Linked DNA regions of Homo sapiens: region 1 is linked to region 2. The links come from fine-mapping of genetic effects on gene expression. A gene starts in region 2. The other region holds a variant in brackets. All regions are shown on one strand. Distances are between the middles of the regions.

The links.
Region 1: its variant is fine-mapped to the expression of ARHGAP15-AS1 in spinal cord (GTEx, PIP 0.91).

The regions. Positions count from the first base shown.
Region 1 is chr2:143,899,148-143,907,495 of GRCh38, reverse strand. No RefSeq gene overlaps it. Among named protein-coding and RNA genes, the nearest start is that of QTMAN-AS1, 34 kb to the left of the region's middle. RefSeq lists an enhancer at 280-838. The variant G/A (reference allele first, on the strand shown) is at 4,142.
Region 2 is chr2:143,770,996-143,779,343 of GRCh38, reverse strand. ARHGAP15-AS1 (ARHGAP15 antisense RNA 1) reads left to right here and starts at 3,246. Exons shown (of 8, transcript XR_007087251.1): 1 at 3,246-3,341; 2 at 3,986-4,161.

The sequences.
Region 1 (8,348 bases), 130 kb before region 2:
TTTAATTTTAATTTGTTTTAAAAGGATCTTCTTTAGGAGTGAGTTTAGATGCACATCACTCTTTCTTCTTTCAGAAAATGAATATATATGTTGTTTAAAAAGCATATCAGAATGACAAAGAATACAGTCTGGCATATGTAGCAAGAAATGAGCACATCTAAATGGGCTGGATGGTATGGTGTAAGTTCTATTCTCTCGCACAGTAATATAACTGGATTGCTCTTTAAAGTAAGTGAATTTGTATGTCCGCTTTCTCTTAATGGAATCAGTTTTGATATACTCTTTGTTCATGCTGTTACTGGCTTCAGTCTAAGGTTTCTTTGTATTAACTTTTTAAAGTTACATTACAAAGAGGTTTTAAGATTTCCCAATAGGCTTTTATTTAACTGAAGCTTTTGATCTCAAACCTGCTGGGGCCTAGTGAAATCCTTACCAATTCTCCAGTAACTCCTCACTATTGGAATTTGAAAAGACCCACCTGAAGGATTTAACTCCCTGTATGGCTTCAGCCACCCTTCAGATCGTGCTATTCAAGCAGACAGCGAGGGGTTCTAGTGTACCCTTTGTGATCGCTAAGCAGCCTAAGGTGTCCTTTGCAGAAGTTGTACTCCTGAGGAAATAAAAATCAGGAGGACACAGACCTATATACCTTGTTTCCTGCTATCTTCAGTTAAAGGGGGATAGCAGGGGTCTGCTTAACATCCTTTGCTACCTAAATACCTTTTGGACATGGGAACTCTATAAAAGAACTTTCATTGCATCCATTACCCTACTGCAGTGCATAACAAATTAGATTTAAAAGGCTACTTTTTTTCCCTTACAGCAATTTCCATCATTTTCTTTAAAATTTCAATTTAGTGTCTAGTGACAGAATATTCTATAATGTACTTTAAAACTCTATAATGTCAATTATGCTAACTGAATATTATTTCCAAAGAATTAGGCTTATGTTATTACAGAAAAATCTTAGTTTAAAAGATCAAGTAAAGAGAGAAGTAGAGAATTGATTCATGCTCAAAAGGTGTTAAATATAAAACTAGATAAAACAAATACTGTTTCTGGAAATCTTTTTAAAAATGCAAATACGCATTAATTTTCTATTTAACCCTCAACTCCCAGTTTTAGAACAATTTTGTATTTTAAGTTGAAAAACGTTAATGCCAAATATTAACCTATTTTTAGAAAGGGTAAAATAATTCTAAGAAAATTCCCAATTATAGTATTTAGATATCTTTATTTCATTTGAAAACTCCATCGTGCAGAGATTTTAGAACATGTAAACAACAGTAAGCATGAAAAGCAAATAAAACTTCATAAAGAACACAATATTTGCTGCTGTGTGTGGGGAGAACAGATGTAGCTATGCACCACTTCTCCTGTGTAAACATTTATCTTTGCCTTTCTATTAACCTGATGTAAAGCCTCTTCATTATTAAAAAATTATTTAAATTCTATGTTGATAAATAGAAATCAACTTATTCCTATGTTACTTCTTTGTATCGGATGTTACTATCTGGGACAAAGCCTCAAGTTAGCTTTACATCAAAGAACCAGAAAGAAATGTGTTTCCAGAAGTTGTAAAATGTTTGCCATTTAGTTCCACTGTGATTCGAGGACATATTCTCTCACACTGTACATGCGCCACATATTACTAGACCTCAGAGGTTCATCCATCTCAGGGTGGTTTCACCCCTTTGGGCTCTCGTGTAACTACAGAAAACCAGTCTTGAACAATCTCAATTCTGAACATGTGGTAGAGTTGTCAGAGAATGTTTTCAGTCTGGGTTTGAGGACTAACGTTACCATACCTGTAGAACATGACATAATTGTTTCATATCTTGATTTACTAATTTCCATAAACATTTGTTACACATCTCATTTGTAGATCTTTATGAGTAGCTGCCTAGTGGAATGTTATTTTCTGCATTTAATAATAACTGATTATATGAAGATAAGGTGATATGAATTCTTTCTCTGGAGAAATAGGGCTCAAAGACTTGCAGAACTGTGAGAATGGGGGAAATTATGAAAAAAATTTGGATTTTTATGGATAACATAATACAAATGTTACTTAAGATATGTTGTGTTCCAGTAATACTCTGCTCCTTTGTAAAAACAAACAAAGAAACAAACAAAAACTATGCATTTTTAATGTGTGGGCAAAAGGTTTAACAAAGTATTTCTCATAATCCAAAATTTACCCTCATCACTCTTATTCATAGTATAAATAGTTACAATTTTGGAGATAGTCTTGCAATATTTATCATTTTAAAAATATAGATCACCTTTGATTAAAAACATGACACTTTCAAAAATTTAGCCTCTAGGGATACTCACAAAATTGGTATAGCTGTACTTAGAAGAATGTTCATTAGAGCATTATGTGTGAGAATAAAAAATCATGGTCAATCTAAATGTCCATCAATGTGAGATTGTTAATAAGATATCAGATATCCTTGGTAACAGTACTATTGTGGTCTCATGCCTACGAAATGTCAAGAAGCAACTAGTTAATGGACACGGCAACCACTTTGAGTAGATGTTATTAATTTGACATTTATGGGTTTAGAAAGCAAAGCACAGATAAATTAAGTAACTTGTCAAAGTCACAGAATTACTAATGCTGGGGCTAGGATTCAAATGCAGCTAAGCCATTTGGTCCCAAAGCCCACGATCTTATCCCTTCTACTATGATGCCCATAGAGATTCCAAGAATGAGGCAGTTTTGACGGCTTCAAATGGAAAAGATGTCCAAGAATTATTAGACATAAAAAAAATGAAGTCACAAACAGAAGGTATAGTATGGTGTCATTTTGGTAAAAGTTATATACATATTAGAACACTTGGAGAGGAAATCTGAAGAATTATTCACCAGGTTGTTTATATGAGAGTTTCTGTGGGTGGGAGTCTCCAATTCTGTTTTATGTATCTGTAATATTTAGATATGTTATAAAAGTATATGATAACAATAGTTTTTTAAAATATCAAAATATAATTGGAAAATTAATAACAGCAGTGAATTATTTTATCAACATATGTAGTATTATTTTCAGAATCTCAAGTGCTGGCAGTCAGTTTGGCCTTTTTTTTTTTTAACAAAGCAGAAACAAATTGTATCACATAGAATGTTCATAATATGGACATTAATTATCACAGTTGGTGTTTGAGGGAGGCTGGTGTTCTATGATAAAGAAAGCTACAACACTGAGAGTTTTTTCCTATATAAGCAAATTTTGCAAGTGATTTGTCTTTTAACTATTGAATAAAAGTACTTTTTATCAATAGAGTTAAACTTATTTTTATTTCACATTCCCTGTATTAGAACATGAATATTTATTCTTTTAAAGCTTTTTATTTTTTGTGGAAAGAGGATTCTCTCAACCTTTCTAATATATAAAAACACTTACTCACATTTGCACTTATAAACTGCTTACATGGGCAAACATTGCATTCCAGGTTCCTAGGGAGGGAAATTCTGCATTTTATTCTGAAGTTACAAAAGATAATTAATACACTACTGGGCTAAGCACTAGGTTTAGGCTGGCTCTAGCCCTACTTTATGCATTTCAGCATTGAAAAAAAAATCAGTGATGGGTAATGCTATCAAAAATGCTAATCCAAAGCTTTGCTTATGGATATCATATTATTTTAAAAGGTAATAGAGAACATTCCCTGTAATCAAGGGTGAGTCAAGGAAAATGGCATCTAAGGGAGTATGTCAGCCAAACAGAAAACTTGACCCAACACCAAGCTCATTGTCAGAATCACAGCTGCCTCATCAACCAATGAGACTGAAAGGGAGGCAGCCGGTAAGTCAGGTGCCGAGGCTGGAAAGACTCTGTGCCAGACCCATTGGCAGTTGGCCCTTCAGCTGCTGTACAGCCTCGGTAGGGGCCCAGGGGTATTGAATCTGGTTTTGGACCACAGGAGGAGAGTGAAGTGAAGTACAACCAATATTGTCAACAGCAAGATCGTCAAGTGAGTCCTGATAATATATTCATGGAAAGATATATTGTTCTGCTTCTAGGTTCTGTAGGGAAGGAGGGCCCAGGGAGAATGCATGTTGCAACTCTGCAAGCAGAATCTACCCCTCTGCCCATAGAAGCTGGTTGTGGTTGTTCAGTTTTCCTTTAGCTTTTTG[G/A]TTTCATTTCTGCAAGTGGCATGTTTTGGTTGCTAAGCAAGGTGTTGCAAAATATGAGGTGAGATGTCAATATAACTTTAAAAGGGGAGATGTGGTCAGAAGGGACGTAATACTCAGATTTTAAGAAGAAAAAGGATTTTTGAATTTGGCATTATTAACAGAGAGCTGTCATGTTCCTTTCCCTCAACAGAGAAAATAAGTGACCCAAAATAGAAAATAAATGACCCTTTCTGTGATTAGCAACTCACTGTGTTTGTTTAGTGTCAAGAATGCTATTAGTAACTAATAAAAATTTATAATCATGAGATCACCTCCCCAAACAAAAATGAATAAACAGAGAATACATCTTTATAGCAAGTCTAATGACACCTTTGCAGCTAAGGAGTCTGGACCTAGCAGAGTATCCTGCATGCCTAGAGCAGGCATTTCATAAATGTTGAAAAATGAGTGTTGTTTGCTGAATATTGAACTTGCCTTTGCAGTCTATATCCCTCCCCAAATAATCAGCCTGTTGTATGACCTCCAGATTTATATTATTGCACCGTCACTTTGGTGCTGAGATTTGGCATAATTACTTTAGGAAAATATCCCTTATTGATACACACATTAGTCCACTGTAGTGAGTGGCACCTGGTATGGGACCCTAAACCTGATACATTCTCAATAAATGCTTGTTAACCTGAATAGTCACTAGGAATTGTGAGACATTATGGGGAGTGTGAAAGACATTATAATTTCTTATCATTTATTTACTTGCTTATTTTTACTTTTTTGAAGATGGGTTTTTAAATGTTTTTAATTTTCTACCAGCTTTATTGAGGTATAATCGGCACATAATAATATATATTTAAAGTATACAATATAATGTTTTGATGTATGTACACATTATGAAATGATTACCACAATCAAGCTAATGAACAAATCCATCACTTCACATAGTTACCTTTATGTGTGTATGGTGAGACACTAGAGGTTTATTCTCTTAGCAAATTTCAAGCACACAATACATTATTATTTAAACTACAGTCACCATGCTGTACATTAGGTATCCAGAACCTATGCATCTTAGAACTGCAAGTTTGTACCCTTTGACCAATATCTCCCCCTTTCCATCAGTTCTTACCTTTTAATGGGAGCTATGGAAGGTACAGGACAAATACAAATGAAATATAATAGAAATATACTAACATATAAATAACTTTGGAAAGTATCATGTACATATGCAGACATAAGAGGCATTTGTTGTGGCCAGGGGTTAACTTTCCAGATGGAAGTTATGGAAGAGATGGCTAGAATTTATGATAACTGCTAGCATTCATTAAACAATTTCTACTGGCCATGCACAATGCTTTAGATGTATTGATTATCTTACTTGATTTTCACTACAAACTTAAAGTAGGTAATACTATTTTTTCCATTTTATAGATATGAAAACTAGGGCTCACATTGACAAATTAATTGTCCAAAATTAGTAGGGAGGCAAGCCGAGGTCTGCACTCAGAAAATCTGGCTCAGAGACTTCATATAAGGACATATAATCATATGAAAAAACAGGAACCTTATGGTCATAAATCTTGAAGTCTTGGCACATTCTTCAGGCATAACCACAGCTGCATATTTAGGACTTAGTTGAGAACTGGGATATCATTCGGCTAAGAGTGTATCTCTAGGAACTCAGTTCACTTTTTGTCCTGTTGGGGGCCAAGAAATTGAGACCCCCAAAATATGGCACTTTGGTGTGATAAGTACCTTGAACTATGGAAATTGGAATGCCTCAGAAACAGCCTCAGAAGCAAAGTCTCTCTCTGACTTTCTCTTGCCTTTCTGTCTCCCGCTCCTCTTTCTCTTCTAAAATGAGTCACAGAAACTAGAATTCCTCCTTCCTTAAGGTGAGTCATAGAAAGGAGAACCTCTTTCCTCTAAGCAAACCACAACATGTAGAAATATGACTTGAATCTTCTCCACCTTTCTGTCTAGGATCTGGTCAGAAGAGATTTTCTGACCTAATATGTCCAATAGTCGTAAGACCTCATTCCAGAGGGCTCCTGCCTGATACCCAGGAGGAAAGAACGCTACACAAAGGAGCCAAGAATCTGAACACACAGGCCTTGCTGGGTTCCCCCTCTGTCTGTTACTGTTAGGTTATTCATTTTTTATCCAATTGCATTTCAACATGGCTGTCCACTCTTCATGGAATCTAAGATTAAAAATTGACACTTTTCCCTGGGTCTTGGGTCTTCATTCTGAAGGCTCCTGCATCATGTAAAACTTTGATAAAATAAATTTGCTATGCTTTTCTCTCGTGAACCTGTCTTTATCATAGGAGTGTTGGCCGTGACCCTTAGGGGAGTGAGGAAAGGGATCACCCCTTTCTCCCCCGGTCTCCTCACAGCCAGGGTTTGCAGTTGTCCTTTCTTGATTGTCACTATCCTCGTGAGGTTCTCCGTCCCTGCTCTTGTAGGAACGCTGCTCCTTGCCATTGCCTACCCTGATGCCTCACATTCATATGCCTTGGAAACAGGCTTGGGGATCACATACACTGTGCTCATGTCTCTGTCTCTCTGTCAAGTGACTCTGTCTCCAGGACACGTCAGAGACCCAGGCCCTCAGGAGGCATCAGTCTTTGAGTAAAGCTGAGGTCATGTAGAATTGGCATGGCCGGGTGTGACGGTTACTTTTCTATGTCAACTTGGCTAGGCCATGATAGCTAGTTTTTGGTTAAACATCAGTCTAGATGTTTCTGTGAAGCTGTTTTTTAAACGTGATTAACATCTAAGTTAGTAGACTTTGAGTAAAGCCGATTACCCTCCATAATGGGAGTATGGAGTTCTCCTCCAATCAGTCGAAGGCCTGAAGAGAAAAGACTGAGGTCTCCTGGGAAAGAGGGAATTCAGCCTCCAGACTGTCTTCAGGCTCAAGATATAATACCAACTCTTTCTTGGGTCTCCAGCCTTTGGCTTGCCCTGAAGATTTCAGACTTGCTAGCCCCCACAATTGCATGAGCCAATTCCTTAAATCTGTCTCTGTCTCTCTCTCTCTTTCTCCACACACGGACCCACACCCACAAACACGCATATATACACACATATATACACACCCATATATCCTGTTGGTTCTGTTTCCCTGGAGAATCCTGACTAATAGACCAGGGTAGTAGGTTCATGAAGATAGTGACCTTTGATAAGAAAACGCATTGTGTTCAATATAATGAGAAGCGATAAGAATGAAAACTAACTAGTTGATCTGAGAAATGAGTGACAAGACTAAGAATACCTTAAATAAATAAACATGAGATTGCTTTGAGTTGGCACATGGAGTATCAGACAGTCAATCATAAGAAAAGTTCCATTATATCTAAAGCTGGTGCTTCCAGCGACAGAAAAACAAGGAGGATGGCTTAGTAGAAATTCAGCTAGTGACAGGGATGGGGATCTTAGTTTTATTCAGCATCTACTAGATATCAGGCCCTTTTGTGTACCTGAACTCATTTAATTATTATAATATCCTGCTTTGTCAGAGCCTGAAATGTAAGGGGATCAAGTAACTTGCAACTGATTTCCTTAGAAAGTGAGTGATGGACTTTCTTTGTGACTATGGATACCTCAAAGTTGCTCTTTGCTTGTTTGTTGCCTTGCCCTTGCCGCAGAGCTTCTGTACATGTTATTATGCCCTCAGTGTGGACAGCTGCCCCTAGTTCATGCTTCCTCATCTCTTAAATAGGGGCCTGAACACTCTCTTCAAGAACTCATTTTCTGTTCTCATCCAGGCTGGCTCAGGACCCCTTATTTTTGCTCTCCAAGCCCCTAGCACTTTTTTTTCCTTCATAGCACATGTCATTATGTGTTTGTGGGCGATTACTTTTTAAATTAAATCTCTACAATAGACTGTAAGTTGCATGAAAACAGGGAACTGCATCTATTTTTTTTATCATTGTATCTCCAGGGCCTAGTGTACTACTTAGAGCATGGTAGTGACTCAATAAATATATGTTGAATAAATACATTTAAATGAATTTGAAATCAAGTATGTCTGAGGGCAAAACTCATGCTCTTTTCCATTGGATCATATTGCTTTTTGATTCTTTCAAGTAAACACTTAAAGATTTCTGACTTTTTTGAAAAGAAATAGGAAAGCACCTGACCTTTTATTCTAAGCTCTATCCCAATTCAAACACTAAAAAGAAGCCCCCATTCTTTAAACAGTACCT
Region 2 (8,348 bases):
TATGCTCCCCTCATGCGATGGTATTTCTGGGGCACTAATGCATGGTGCTGTGAAACACGTCTTTGGCTGAGCTAGCCAGTTCAAAAGCCAGCTTCACAGCGGAATTTCACACATGCAAATGAACCATTGTGATCTTAGTCATGAAAATTCATGGAATAGTGGCTAGTTCAGTGTGGATGACCTGTCAATTTGGCAGCCAATCAGTTGGTTAAACATCCAAATTACTGGCCAGTTACTCAGTCTAATGCTAGTCTTCCTGCTTGTTACTGGGTTCTATGTAATCCTATTAAAAGCAATGACATTCTCTTTGATTTGTGGCAGCTAATGGTGTAGAAGTACCACGCAGGCACAGGACATGTGTCTGGCACAGTTTTCACTTGGGCATTGTGAAAATGGACCACTTGTGTTACTGTTGGATTTATTCTTAAAACTCTAAATATCCTCTGTTGAATAACAGGCAAAGTATCTTAATTTCATGGGTGCACCCTATTTATTATTTTTATCAATTATAAATGGGAATTGCTCTAAGGATTGAATATTTTTTTTTTGATATGTACTAATTGATTTTGTTGGATCTATAGTTAGCTCCTTGGACTTGGTTGTACTGTCAGGCAGTTGGACAGAAAGCCGTGGAGACTCCTCATGGCCTGTTAGAACTTGGGATTTGATTGACAGTGACCCATCTACAGTTCAATTTAGACAAAAGATAGCAGTATTGATAGGCTGGGAAATGGATCTAGAACAGTAATTCCTAGTTACAGACCTCTTTGAGAATATGATGAAAACTCCAGACTTGGACTCCAGAAAAATGTGCCAAAAATCTAGCATGAAGGTTTTGAGATTTCCTGCATCTGTTGAAGTCCAGGGGTCCAGGGACCCACGAAACCTATGTTAAAATTCCTGTACTGAATGTCAGGGTATGGAGTGGGAATAAAGAGACACAGAGAAACAGAGAAGGAGGCACCAAGATAGAAAAAGATAAAAGAGCCACGGAAGAGAGTAGACTCGGAAGTAGAGAGAGACTGAGAGGCTGAAAGTAGATGTAACTGCAGTTCTCTTAGCCGAACATAATCTCGCAATGCTATACATAATTAGGTTCTAATAAACACTTTCTTATGTCCAGAATCTTGAGTTATTCTGTCAAATAAAAATCTCCCATATGAAAGACATGATATATCTTTCACCTGAGGATTTTTGACAGTGTTGAAAAAACATACAGGAACAAGCATTTCATTTTAAAGGCAAGCATGAAGATTTTTAAAAGAACAGTGTAAGTTAAAGGGTCAGTTGGCTTGTAAATGCAAAAGCTTTTGTGTTTACTGAAGGCCATTGGTAGAAAAATTGTAAAAATAATACTGATTGGGAAGCATCAGTCATACTTTTTTTCAAAGAGTTTTTAATATATAGTATTGTATTTTATTTTCACAACAACCCTTTTTGTTAGGTAGGGCAAAAACTGCCATATGTGTTTTGAACATGAAGAAATTGAGACATGTGTATGGAGACTTATCTGGAATGATGAATACTCCAGGAAAAAGTGAATTCTGGAAACCAGATTTCCCAGCTCTGATTCTCAGGTGAATCCATATATCCCTGTTAGATATTAACACCCACATAGCCAGTGTATATTACAAATATAGTGTCTTCTTGTTTCTTAAAATGAAATAAAATTGACGAATTGGAACATGAATTAAAAATAGTGTTCTTGAAATGGGACAAAATAACAGGATCGTAGAACTTTAGAATGTAGGAGACCCTAGACATGAATAATCTCACCTACTTGTTAAGGTCCTTGTTGAGGACAAGGACTTGTCCCAGAGGGCTTGAGATTTGAACAAGACCTGGTGAGTGGAGACATATGGGAGAGACACTAACAGCAGAATGAAATAAGGACTTGCTCTCAACTCTGCTTTTTTTCCCACTCCCACCCAGGGGAAGAAGCAGGATTTAAAAGCATCTATTCTATGTTTTATATAACTTAGATGGAATGTCTTGATAATAATTTTGAAAAATCAGGTGTGAATCAAATCCAGTTCTCTTCTCAGACTATACCTGGGAACTTTAAAATTCCAGTGTTTTCTCAGAAGTTGTCTGTATAGGATAATGTAAAATTCTTTACATTCTGTTGGCCTGGGAAATTTTACATGGCTAAGAAAATATAGTAGAATAATTGCTCTGCTTCTCAGACTATAGTAGAGATTCCTAGGTTAGCATAGGTAATTCATGTTTCAAGGATGAATATGGTCATATATATCCATACATGCCCATATTCAATTATTCATGATTGTGGTATATATATATATACACACACACACATGCATACACACACATACATATGATATATAGATATATAATTGTGAGCATTTATAAAAGCATTAGGTCTGCAGGATATTTAAACACTCTTCATTTGTAACTTGCATTTTAGGGGGAATTATTTAGCTATGCGAGATATCACCATATTCAGTTTTTTTAATATAATAAACATGTCTAGTCAAAGAAGGCATTAATGAAGCAATTCCCCAAATAAAACAGCCCATGATATCTGAGTTGCAGCAGAGAGAGAGTGTGGTCTTTGTAGTTTAATCAAGATCACAAGACTTGTTTTGAGCGTCTGTCATCTTTAATTTTACGGCACTTCATTTCAGAGTAGGACTGCCAGGGTCACATGCAATTAAAACACAGGCAAGACTTGTCTTGTGAAATCTTAACATAAAAAGTAATGTGTTACTCCATTTTAACTTTTCTACTGAACTCCGTGAACTCACTAATTACTTTTCCCCCCTCTTGTCACCTTTTTGATATGACATGTATTTTATAGAGGAGATAGAAATTTGGATTTTTTTAATATCATGCATATGATTGAGGATAACAAAATTAAACCAGAGAAAAAAGGAATGCGTTTTTCAGAAATACATTTTTTAGTAATATCTGAGTACTCCAGCTTCAATTACAAAGAACCTCATAGATCAAATTCTAGGAAATAACTGTTAATCTGCTTAACTAGGGCAGGTAGAAGTGTAATAACGGACCAGAGATTTTACAGAGGCCAGGATCGTGAACCGGAGTTTATTCTCTGGGGTGCGGGCAAAAGCGCTTTTATGTGATTGGCTGAGAAAAGCATTAAAAGCCAGCGCCTACGTGGAGATTTGGAGCACAAGGAGGGTTGTTGCATCATAGTGATCAGTAAATTGCATAGACCCTTATTAACCTTATTGATAAGGAGCTTAGGGAAGACCCAGGCAGGGCGCAATATATTCTTCTTTTTGTTCTCCTGTCTGTCTCCGTTTGCAATCCCAGCCGCTTTGTATGGAGAGCTTTTACGCAGCACCTGAAAATTCAATGTGAGTAGCTGCGCCTTTAAGTTAGAGCCAGGGAATGGAGCGGGAGCCAGCCCATGCACAGGGGGTTCAGGGCCTATTTAACTGGTGCTGGGGACACCTGGAGAATGTTTGAAAATTTTGTGCTTAAAGAATCTTTTATATTACTCCTCTTTCAATGCAGCTGGGGTCTGTAGGGATCAGGGGATTATTTTTGATACCTGTCGAAAAGAGTTATGTCTACACTGATTTTCCATCCCTCACTACTAATTAACCTTATTGTATACAGGAAACAGTGTATTTAATACCTGCATTCTTTCTGTAATGCCAAGTAAAATGAAATCCAGTGTGAAATCTAGTTAGCGTTTGCCTTTTTGAAGTCATTTTTAAGTTTCCAGTTTTAGTGACTGTGACCTCAGAACTGATAGCTAGAAAAATAGTGAGCTCAAACCAATTTTGGTTTCAATTGTATTCCTCACTCCTTCCAACTTTAAAAGCTGCCTTTCACCTGGTCTGGTGAGGAGAATGGAGGAATGGAACATCCCGAGCTGGACCACGTTTCTCTGGAGTCTTCCATGTTGGCCTCTGCCTGTGGTTGTGAGGTTTCCCTTTAGGCCGGCCCCATAGGCCGGCCCCTACTCCATTAACCTGGTTTCTCTCCTTGGCAGTTGAACACCTGTGTCCCCTTCTTTTCAATCTGGGAGGCTGAAATTTGACAGACACATCATGGCAAAGTTGTGCAGCAGCGATACAAGTAGATGCTGAAGAAAAGGGAGGAATCTGAGCGCAGGATAAAATGCTCAAGAAAATCCCATTGGTGGAATGTTTGTGAGAGAAAAAAAAGGTAGGGTCTAGCAAGAAAGAGCAGAAATTAAACTGTGTAAAATGTCACCAAATGATGTGGAAAAATCCACATGTCTTCAAGTATGCTGCACAATATGGACTTAGAACACATTTTGCGAGTGATGTGAGAATGGTTAGCACAATGGTTACATTCCTGCTCTTAAAATTCCAGTGTGTGTGTGCATGTGTGTGTGTGTGTGCATGTGTGTCAAGTAAACTTGTTAGCGAAAATAGTGCCAGAGGAAAGTGAGGATTTTCAGGCCACTGCCTTGTATTTTCCAGATTCCTTGGCTTTTGAGATTTTCATATGTTGGTCAGAATGCCTATGCCTTATAACATTTGTCTGACATGTAAACCACACATTGATAAGTGGAGAGAAGGTTAGTGGAAGATGCTGCTGGGTGTCACAGATGCCTAAGACCCCCTCCTCCTCCCAGCTGACTTGAACCGGGACATCAAAATTTGCTGTCAGACTTGCATGGGTTAGATTGGTGAATCTTACCATCTCTCCACTGCTTCTGTGATTTAGTAAGCATTTCTTAGGGACTTGCACTTCAAGAGAGGTAGCTGAAGGAATGTCTGTTTGATGGCCCTTGTTTAGGTGGGACTAAGAGTCAACACAAATACCACTGATTTGGCTGCACATAAGACGCTACATTTAACTTGATAGGAAACCTGACGGTGGATCATATTTGTATTTAATGTTGCTAGTGTTCTGGGTTTTTGTCTTGGTTCACTGATCCATCAAGTGTGCACAGAGCCCCAAGCACGGGCATGGTGTTGCCACTCTCACTTACTGCTTTCTTAGCGCTCTCCTTATTGAATGGGGAGTGTTGTATAGAATCCTACTGATGGCTTAAGAGTTTTGTGGACCCTGCATACTTTGCTTCAAGCATAAAATAGCAAAAATCAGTTGTATAAGTCTATAAGGAGTGTGTGTGTGTGTATATCCTTCTTCAGGTCTCTTACCAAGACAGCTAGGCATTTTCATCTGGACAACACTACTACAGAAAATTGTCATCTTTTTGTACAAAATGTTCACTGTATTCTCATCATTTAAATGATTCAAGATCACTTTCTGGCAGCATGAGACATGACATGTCTTGATGCCTGCCTCTTTTTCAATTATATTTAAGAGGAAGGCTGCTGGGACCCACATTTTTCATCTTTCACAGGACCCCTAAAGGGCCAGATTTAAGTTCAATACAATATTAGATAGTAAGGTATGATAGATGATAACAGGACACTGACAAATATGATCCAACACAGCATAATACAACATAACATGGGGTTGAAGCTACCCCAACAGGTACCTGTAAAGATGGGTAAAGAGGCTTCTGTTCTGTCCTTTCCATAATGCAGTAAAAAATTAGTACAATGTCTGCAAAACATGTAGGCAAACAAAATGCTACACAAATATTAAAATTATAGAAATAACATGCATGAGATTAACCATCTACTCATAAGAACAGAGGTACTCTGTATTTCTTTGAAAAAATTGTGTAATATCCCCCTTATTCTTTTATGAAAATTCATATGAAAGTAAAACTTTCATCAGGTGTTTTAACAGAATGACCAGGCACCCACACAAGTAGAAATACCTGGGGATGTTTATGCACTTACATTTTTTTCAGCATCTTTTCCTAATTAAGTGATCATATGGTACAGTGGTTAAGGCAGGTGCCTCTGCGCCATATTACTTAGATTCAAATATTGATCTGGCATATACTACTTACATGAACTTGGTAATTTCAGTATTTTTTTGCTCTCAATTTCCTCAAGTATAAATCAGGGATAATAGTGTCTTCCTTCGTAGAGTTATCAAGATTAAATAAAACAATATATATCAATTGCAGTTCATGGCATATAACAAGTGCTCTATAAATGTTAGCTAATCAAAATTAATCTTCCCAGGACTAATTTCTTGATGATCCTCTGGGTGGCCAGAGGAGCAATATTGGCTCAAGAAAAAGGAGGGAGAGGTCAGAGCCAGGTATGATAGAAGTGACCCTACGATCATCTGGGGATGATGCTGGTAGCATGCACACTCATTGACTTGGGCATGACTTGGCCAAAATGGTTACTGTCAAATGCCAAATCACTTTCAGAATCTAGAATTAACCTCCATCGCAACCCAGTGAGTAAGTCAGAAACGGGCCTGGTATGGGAGTTCTGCATAACAAGAGATGGTCTTTGCACTTAGCAGTCATAATGAAGAGATGGCAGGTAAGGCCCTGAAGAAGTTTAATAGTATGATGCACCATAATATCAATTTCTCTATCTGCTGCTGCTCTCTGAATTTAGACTTGCATTAACAGTCTTATAGCAATAATCTTCTGTCTGGCAATGGTGCCTATGATTTCTTCCTGCTTCAAATTCCACTCCATAATGTTGCCATGAGAATCTTTACAGCTTTGATAAAGTTACTTCCCCGCTAAAAAAAGACCTTCAGGGTCTCAAAATTGACTAGAAACTTAGGATAACACATCTTAGTACGGCATTCAGGATTTTTTTTTGAGTCTGGTCCCAACCTTCCTTCTCATTGTTTTCAGAACATAAAGTTATTATTAGTTAATAAACTGGAAATCCATCATCCACATCTTTTAGGAATAACTTGGAATTTCATGGTGTATTACCTGTTTTAATTTCCTTCATATGATTCCATTACATAGCCCTGAAAGGCAAAATAAGACAAGTAGAAAACAGATACCCAGCTTGAGTGAGTAATTTGCTCAGGGTCGACACAGCAAGTTCTCCTAAGTGCAAAGTGTACACGTTTTCTGCTCTTTCCCATTGCTCGGGCTCCTCATCCCCACAATCTGCTCCGTGTGCGGCCACTTTCTGGGGAGCAAACTTTGTGACACTGAGGTCCTTGGGCTGAGTCCACAGAGCTGTGTTTTATTTGGTGCCCTTAAAAAACAGATTTCACACAAGATCCTGAATTTCTGGCTTTTCATGAAAGAGCTGAAGGTCTGGCAACATTGTGCCCACATTCCCACATAAGCAACATCGGCTCCAGCTGAGTAGAAGCCGACCCTTTTGGCCAGGCGTTAAGCTTGACTTTTCCACAGCTGCTGCTTCATACGCCTGCTGCCTGCTCCTCTTGACTCGTTTCTATCACTGCCCGGCCCCACTAGGCATCTGAATTTGCAACCCTTGTTTTAAAGAAAGAGAAAAAAGGAGACATCTGTGTTCTAAAGATAAGATCAAACAGGGTTGAAAATATAAAATGTGATTATTATATTTCCAGAAAGTCCTCATTTTTTGGTATTAAGATGTAAGTTTCCTGGGAGAGAGTTGATGTTGTTTTGGTTTTATTCCTCATTTTTGACAACAGAGCAATTTGACCCAGAACCCTTAGCAACAGTCCTTTTTGGATGAAAATCTTTGCAGGGCCTTTTAATTAGGAATTGACAGGGTGATTAACTTATAATTCACAAAAATAAATGTGGAAAAGAGAAGTACAGGTCAATTTCTAGCTGTGTTAAACTGTAAGGACAGCACTATTGGCAAGTGATTGCTTCCTTTTAACAGCTTTTAAAATTTTTCTTAATTGGATCGTTTGTTTTCTAATTGGATAGGGAGAACCATCATATGGCTTTCAATTACTAGTTGTGGCATGGTGATCCTGTCATATGGCACATGCTAAGAAAGTCAGACTGTCAACATATAAGATGAAATATATACCATCTCCAAGCAGCTTTCTGTGTCAATAAGAAAGAGGGGAAACCTCTGATATCCTGGGTAGGTAAAGGCGTGCTGAAATGGGACATAATAACTAGCTTGATTTTCTAGGGACTTGTGTTTCCATTCTACAGACTAAGTTACAATTTCTTAAAATGTTTCATCATCATAACTAGAACTGACCCTAAGAATATAAGATTATAATTTTATTTCACACACAAACACATACATGAGAAAATGCTGGTCTCCTCAAATTAATTTTTTTCCTGCCCATTGGTGAATTTAGAGATTCTCTAAGAAACAAAGTTTCTCTATAGCTTTCTGGCTTTACAGCCTCTATGGGATCCCTTTTGCCTACAGGATAAAATCTGAATATGTTATCATGGCTGATATCTGATCCCAACATCTTTCTCTAGCTTTATATTCCAAAATTGCTAGGCATGCACTTCACCCTTTATTCACTGAACTTCTCACTTTTCTTTGGAGAATGTCAGGTCTTTCATG